2 linked regions of the Homo sapiens genome follow. The protein of the gene in region 1 interacts with the protein of each later gene in a pairwise test. Each region holds a gene or a part of one and is shown in the gene's direction. Other genes may lie near its edges.

Region 1 (3,805 bases):
TTTGCAGCCAGCAGGCATTACACTTCTGGAAAATATCTGGATTCTTCTGTAATATACAGGCGTGGCTGCCATGGAGAAAAAGTTAAAAGGGGACCAGGACTAGTAGGTGAATGTATCCTTCTTCTCCACCCTGGAGAAAAAGCCCAATGGAGAGAGGGCCCTAGATTCAAGTCATATAGCCTGGAAGCACCATCTCCAGGTTTAAGTTTTGTCTTGCAGTGAAAACAGATGGGTCCATCTTACCCAGCCCTTGAGGCTCATTGGGCAGCTTGGATGTGAGAAGCGCTCCGGCTGCTATCCTGGAGTGGGCAAGGGTGGCCCTCGAGATTCTGGGTTTATTCTTTGGATTTCCAGGGTTCCTGCTGCTTCCCCAGGAATGCAGGGCCTGGCCCAAGACTTGGGCTGTGAGAGGCAAGGGCATCAACTCTCAAAAATGTGGAAATGGCCATCAGAGCGCCAAGGCCAAACCCCAGGGGAGAGGAATCAAGGCCGTCTCTGGATCCCTAGGGCAGTCTAGCCATGGTGCACAGGCAGGGGCAATTGTTGGTACCCACTCACAACCGCCCAAAACTTCACAAGCATGTTCATATTTTAAATTCTTAAATATTATATCTTGCATCCTAATCTTGTAAACATTAATTTAGCAAACATCAATCGCCTACTTGGTCAGGCACTGGGTTCTGAATATTAATTAAGACAATGGCCTCGAGAACCTTTGCAAGAAGCTCACCAGCTAATCCTGGAGAGGCCCCTTGTTTTGGATGAGGAAATCCAGGTTCTATGAGATTAGGTGGCAGAGGTGGGATTTGAACCCAGACCATGCTAGGGTGTTTCTACTCCTTTTCCAGGGATCTTGGCCCCACCGTTGAGATGGATTTCTTCTGGCCTGCGGGAGGGGCACCAAACTCTTAGTCCATGTGTGGGGGTTGACGGGTTTGTGAGGGCAGATGTGGGGTGAGGACTTGAGTAGCCCCAGACTAGATGCAAGGCTTAAGGAGGAGGGGAAAAAAGCTTGCTTGGGCCGGACGCGGTGGCTCGAGGCGGTTGGATCACCTGAGGTCAGGAGTTTGAGACCAGCCTGGCCAACACGGTGAAACCCTGTCTCTACTGAAAATACAAAAAAAAAAATTGGCCGGGCTTGGTGACGGGCGCCTATAATCCCAGCTACTCGGGAGGCTGAGGCACAAGAATCGTTTGAACCCGGGAGGCTGAGGTTGAAGTGAGCTGAGATCGCGCCACTGCACTGCAGCCTGGGCGACAGAGCGAAACTCCGTCTCGGAAAAAAAAAAAAAAAAAAGAGGTTGCCTGCTAGTCCACTGATCCCGCAGCCCCGCAGGCTCGCAGAACCCTAAGGCATGATTAGGCCTGGGATCATCAGGCCACCCTAGGGTCAGGTGCGGAGGCCTGCGACGCCCGAGGGCCAAAGGCTCCCTCTTCCGGTCACACAGGAGAGGGTATTTTGTTGGGGGACAGGTTTTCCCCAATCACAGTGCAGCTGCAGTCATCGTTTTCAGCCTTCTGAGCACCTTCCTGGCTGAGCCTGCTGTCCATTTCACCCCTCAGCTCTCACGGCCCGGCCAGGCCAGGCGGTTCCCGGCTTCTCTGCAGCCGCCGGCGGGGGAGGAGGGCACAGAGCGCGTCTCGCCTCTTAGCGCACGGTCAAGGTTGCGCTCCCCTCCCGGGCCGGGACTAACCGTGGGAAAGGCGCTACCTTGGCCACTCGATTCTCTCCCTCCAAGGCCTGTACAAGGAGCCTTTGAACACGCTGCTCCTTCCAGCCGGCAGCTTTACCTCCCCTGGCCCCTGCCCCCGCACTCTCCGCGCCAGGCCAAGCGCTGGGCCCAGGGACAGCGCGCTCTAATCAAACCCGTGTCCGATAAGCTTCTAATTAAAAGAGACCTCCCTCCGCTCCGCAGGCGCTTTCACCACTGCCCCTCCCGGGGGGACCTGAAGGAGAGGGTTTGAGGCCGGTCTTTGCCCGCCGAGGTCTGCGTGTCCGGTCTGGGAGGAGGCCTAGGAGGGCTCGCGGGCCACGGGCATCCTTGGGCCCGAGTTCTGGGGTGCGGACGGACGTCTCGAGAGTGGGTGCCGCGACTCGGGACCCACGGCCCTCGCCGGGCACGGACAGTTGCGGAGCAGGGCTCTGAGGATTGTGCAGTGCCCTGGGTCCCTGCCTACTCCTGGGCTCAGGAATGGAGAAGGGTTCGTCTAGAGAAAACTTCTTCGTAGCTTCTATTTCGTCTCTCTCTCTCTCTCTCTCTCTCTCTCTCTCTCTCCCTCCCTCTCTCTCTCTCTCTCTGTGTCTGTCTCTCTTTCTCTCTCTCTCTTTTTAGTGTCCTTTCAGAAATTCGGCCTTCACTCCGGGCAATAGTGGGTGCCCTGAGCCAAATTTCGTTTGTAAGCTCATCTATAGGCCTCAAAGAAGGCCAGGCCTCAGGTTTCAAAAGGAAGTCTGTGGAAGCCCAAACGTGCTCGCCCATGCAGGAGAGCTAACGGGGCCGGGGGTTATCTTTGCCCACTTAGCAGGAGAGAAATGGAGGCCCTCGAGGTCATATGATAAAAGCTAGTGGCTTCTCAAATCCCCAGTGTGTGGTGCTGAGCAGTGTGTGAGACTTAAGCCTGGACCTGTACTATCCGGGAGTTAGGATTTGCCCCCTCCTTCCCTCCCTTGCACTCTGCCACACCACCCTCCAGGCTCATGCCTCTGTTGCCCCAGAGAAGCTTTTTTTTTTTCTTTTTCTTTTTTTTTTTTTCTGGGCGGGGGGTGGTGGTGTGTGTGCATGAGCGTCCGTGTGTGTTTCGAAAATGGAGGTAACGATGCCCTGGGTCCTGCTCATCGGCTGAGTCCTGCTTAAGTCTTTGGAGGCACTTTGGTCAAATAGTGCAAGAGTGGGAGAATGGGTGCTGTTTGACCCAATTTACTCCTGAGAATTTTGTGAAGTTTGGAGACCCAGGGCAGTCCTGGGCCAGGAGGATCTGAGGCTGCTGGGGTGGCCCTGCCAGGATCCCATAGGAGCAGCTCTCCTTAGCCATTGTGTCTGGACTTCAGGCCACAGACTCCGGAACTTGTAGAGGAATGAGACCCCATCCTTGGGTTCCGGGGCCAATGACGTATCTTTAGCCGAAGGATCCTTTTCCCCAGAGGCAGCAACAGCTTTCCAGAAGCTTGTGGGGTATAAGTTTAAAGCAATTTAATAACAAAAATTATAAAAGACTATGTTTTCCAACTGAGGCTCCACGCTCTTTTTCTCACTTTGGGGGGGGGGGGGAATGCTAGGATTTCCCTAGGGGGAAACTGAGGCAAAGGACCGAAGCACTACCATGGAGGGAAAGGGAGATACAGTGTCAGGCACACTCTAAAGGAAATTGGTTGTCCAGCCTGGGGAGTGAGGAAGTTGGCTCCTACAGCAGTGGTCAGGGTCGGACCCCTGGGCGCAAGGTGGGTCCCATAGGGGGGAGGAGGAGGAGAGCGCAGGGTCGCCATCTGAAGGCCCAACTGGAAGGGGCCCTTGTTTTCCCCCTCACCAGCTTTCCCTTGGGTGTCATGGTGTCAGGTCGGGTAGCCCCAGACAGATAACATTACTCGGTAATTACTCTTCCCATTTTTAAGACCAGGCCATTTAACTGGCTCCGAGTAATTAATGAAAGTTGGTGCGCGGGCCCCTGATTTACAGCTCGGAGTCAACGCGGGGTTAGCCCAGCAGATTCATTTCGCTTGCCCGCGCTGCTCCTGCGGAAGAGCTGCAGTTTATTTTTGGGGGGTGAACAACCTTCTCTGTCGATCAGGCAACGAGTTTTATACTTA
Region 2 (3,805 bases), on another chromosome or scaffold:
GGTGGCGGCGGCGGCTGGAGAGTGAGCTCGTTGCTGTAGGAAGCCAAACAGATGCTGTGCTTTAAAAATTCATAGCTCTGCACTGTTTCAAGTGTCAGGAAAAGCCCAGGACAGAGAGAGCCCTTTAACACCTCTCAGCATCAGAGCCCGGCTGGCCCAGCCAGGGTCTCTGCACCTGGCCAGAACTGGGCGGGCTGGGAGTGGGGCAGGTAGCCCCTGCAGAAAAGACAGGTGGGCAGCCGAGGGGGCGCCTGCCTTCCCTTCCATCCCAGGGCTCGGGCCCCATCTGTCTCCCCCTACTTTGACTTTTGGCCACCTCAGTGTTGTCCTGCCCCTTTCTTGGGGCCAGGCCTCTTTGCCTCAATGGGCCTGGGATTCCCGCCAGGCCCAGTCACTTGCCTGGGCCTCTGCAACTTCACCTCCCCTCTGCATCCCATACAGGGCCCGAAGAGTCCTCCCTGGGGCTGGGGCTGGGGCTGGGGCTGGGACTGTCACCCACAGCAGGGCCCTGACCCCACCCCTCCTCCCTCCAGGTTCTCGGGCAGCCAGCACTGTGGCCACATCCACTGTGCCTACCAGTACCGCGAGCACTACCACTGCCTTGACCCTGAGTGTAACTACCAGGTACGGCCACAGCCAGATGGGCTCCGCCTCTCCGCCACCAGCACAGCATGGAGGCGCTTAGAAGTCGGCAGGCGGGGACGGCAGTGGGGGGGGTTAGTTCTAGTTGCACCACCCAAACTTGACTTGAGCAGGTAGAGGGCCCGCAAAACCACCAGCCTGCCCACATTCCCCGATTCCTGCCGACAGAGCAGCTCCTACGATTGGGGGCCAGTGACCTCCCAGTGGTGATCATTCCAGTCCCCTTTGACTGAGAGCCTCCCACGTGCCCAGGGCCATGCCAGCCAGCCTATGAGCCTTGCCTAATTGACTCTTTGCAGTGGCCTTAGAAGGTTAGCATTACTGCCCCATCTTAAAGATGATAAAATTGTGGCTCAGCCAGAGTGCCACTGTGCCCAAGGCTGCCCGCCAGTGAGCGCGGGGCTGGTGAGTGGGGGGAGAGTCAGGGCAGCCTGCGTGGGGTGGCTCCCTCTGGCTTGCCAGGGATCCCAGCCTGCCTTAGTCCAGAGGTGCACTGGGCGGGATGAGCTGTCAGCATCAGAGCCCCTGCCCTCAAGGCCTGGCCCAATGCATCATCTGTGCTCCTGGGGATGGCCACTGGGCACCTAGGGGAGCATCGGGGAAGAATCTATGGTCCTAGAACCTTTGGGATGGTTCCCTCCAAGGGCTGATGTGCCTGCCACTGGCCTTGGACAATCTGGGCTGCCTTGACCCCAAGCAGGGTTCTTTCTAGGGAGACCTGAGGCCAGCACCTGGCCCAGGTGCTCTTGGCATATGGGAGGAAGGGCGGAGGGGGAGCTCAGGCTCCTGCCCACGTGGCGCTGTCTCCTGGCAGAGGTTCACGAGTAAGCAGGACGTGATCCGCCACTACAACATGCACAAGAAGCGCGACAACTCCCTGCAGCACGGCTTCATGCGTTTCAGCCCGCTGGACGACTGCAGCGTCTACTACCACGGCTGCCACCTCAATGGGAAGAGCACCCACTATCACTGCATGCAGGTGCCTCCCGCACCCGGGCCCACTGGGCAGCTGCAGGACTGGCCCAGGCCCTCCCGGCTCTGAGCCCCCCACTCCCAGAGGCAGGGCTGCCCCATGGGCAGGGACCCCAGTTGATCAGGAGCCTCTCTTTCCCCTGGCCCAGCACAGGGATGGCCAGCGAGCCAGGAGGGTCCTGGGGGTTCAGGCTTGGGCAGCGTCTGGTGGGCCAGGGTGGGGCCTTCCCCATGGCCATACTTGGTGTGGATGAAATTCAGTGAGCTGTTTATACAGATGGACATTTTTCAGGCTTTAACACCAAGAGCAGCATTGCAAATGATTCCTGAGGAGGTTTTTGTTTAATTCTTTGTTTTAATGCCACGCAGAGTCTGGGCTTTTTCAAGGTGTCAGGGCCAGGAGGAGCGACTTTGGGTTGCAAATAGCAGCCCTATGCCTCCCCCGGTATTTGTCAGGAGTTGTTATGGCCTCTGTGAACAACCTGGGCCACGAGGAGAGGGGGGCCACCCTCTGGGCTCTGAGATGGTGCAGACACTGGCACGGCCCAGCCTACGAGAGTGTTCGGATTCCACGGGTTTTTACTCAATATGGCAACGTTGCCTTCCTGGCCCAGCTGGGGTGGGGTGGGAGGGCCCCGTGCCCAGGGACTGTCCACTAAGCAAATCCCTGGGCTAAAGGTGACCTCCAGGGTCCAGCCCCTGTCCACCCACTGAGGGTTTTAGAGGTAGGGCCATGGATTGGAACTCAAAATCCAACTCCTGCAGGATGCAGCTCCCTCCCCTGGGCCAAAAAGTGCCCTGAGTCTCCGGAGATGCCCTGATCCTCAGCACAGACGGAGCCAGGCTCCAGCAGCACTTGGTCCCTCTGTGGAGGCCTGAGGGGCTGTTGGAGGCTTTCTACTCTGCTTCCTACATCAACATCCCGAGGCCTCCAGTTTGAAGTCAGAGGTGCCAAAGCTTCCCTGAGCAGGGAAGTCAGTGGCCCCAGCCACACACAGTGGTGTCGACCTCGGCCCAGGAGCACCTGGCCTCCGTTCGCCTGACCACCATCCCGTCCTGTGCAGGTGGGCTGTAACAAGGTGTACACGAGCACGTCTGACGTGATGACCCACGAGAACTTCCACAAGAAGAATACCCAGCTCATTAACGACGGCTTCCAGCGCTTCCGAGCCACCGAAGACTGTGGCACAGCCGACTGCCAGTTCTACGGACAGAAGACCACGCACTTCCACTGCAGGTAAGCGGGAGCCTGGTGGGGGCCTTCGTGGGCAGAAGCGGGGAGGGAAGGCAAGGACCCAGGCTCGTGGGACGGCTCAGGCCCCTGCCTCGGTGTCCAGCCTGGGTTTTCCACCCGGGGGACTGTCCCTCCCAGGGCCATGGTGTAGCAGGGTGGGGCCTCCTCTGGGTCTCATGACAGGCTCCCAATGTCCCATCCAGGCGCCCCGGCTGCACATTCACTTTCAAGAACAAGTGTGACATCGAGAAGCACAAGAGCTACCACATCAAGGACGATGCCTACGCCAAGGACGGCTTCAAGAAGTTCTACAAGTACGAGGAGTGCAAGTACGAGGGCTGCGTGTACAGCAAGGCTACCAACCACTTCCACTGCATCCGCGCCGGCTGCGGCTTCACCTTCACCTCCACCAGCCAGATGACCTCTCACAAGCGCAAGCATGAGCGCCGGCACATCCGCTCCTCGGGCGCGCTGGGGCTGCCGCCCTCGCTGCTGGGCGCCAAGGACACGGAGCACGAGGAGTCCAGCAACGACGACCTTGTTGACTTCTCCGCCCTGAGCAGCAAGAACTCCAGCCTGAGCGCCTCCCCTACCAGCCAGCAGTCCTCTGCGTCCCTGGCTGCCGCCACTGCCGCCACCGAGGCTGGGCCCAGTGCCACCAAACCTCCCAACAGCAAGATCTCGGGGCTGCTGCCCCAGGGCCTGCCTGGCTCAATCCCCCTGGCCCTGGCCCTCTCCAACTCGGGCCTGCCCACCCCCACGCCCTACTTCCCCATACTGGCTGGCCGTGGGAGCACCTCCCTGCCTGTGGGCACCCCCAGCCTCCTGGGTGCCGTGTCGTCTGGGTCAGCAGCCTCAGCCACCCCTGACACACCCACGCTGGTCGCCTCGGGAGCTGGAGACTCAGCCCCCGTGGCTGCCGCCTCTGTCCCGGCACCACCCGCCTCCATCATGGAG

Evidence for each region.
Region 2: the proteins of WT1 (region 1) and CASZ1 interact in a two-hybrid assay, tested with the Homo sapiens proteins (one large-scale study listed by BioGRID and IntAct).

What each region holds. Positions count from the first base shown.
Region 1 is NC_000011.10:32,428,927-32,432,731, reverse strand, and holds part of WT1 (Wilms tumor protein), read left to right. Parts: intron 1-1,918; exon of another isoform or gene 1,919-2,192; coding exon of another isoform or gene 2,193-2,202; intron 2,203-3,805. UniProt on the Homo sapiens protein: Transcription factor that plays an important role in cellular development and cell survival. Recognizes and binds to the DNA sequence 5'-GCG(T/G)GGGCG-3'. Regulates the expression of numerous target genes, including EPO.
Region 2 is NC_000001.11:10,653,465-10,657,269, reverse strand, and holds part of CASZ1 (zinc finger protein castor homolog 1), read left to right. Parts: intron 1-533; coding exon 534-624; intron 625-1,456; coding exon 1,457-1,621; intron 1,622-2,678; coding exon 2,679-2,851; intron 2,852-3,051; coding exon 3,052-3,805. UniProt on the Homo sapiens protein: Transcriptional activator. Involved in vascular assembly and morphogenesis through direct transcriptional regulation of EGFL7.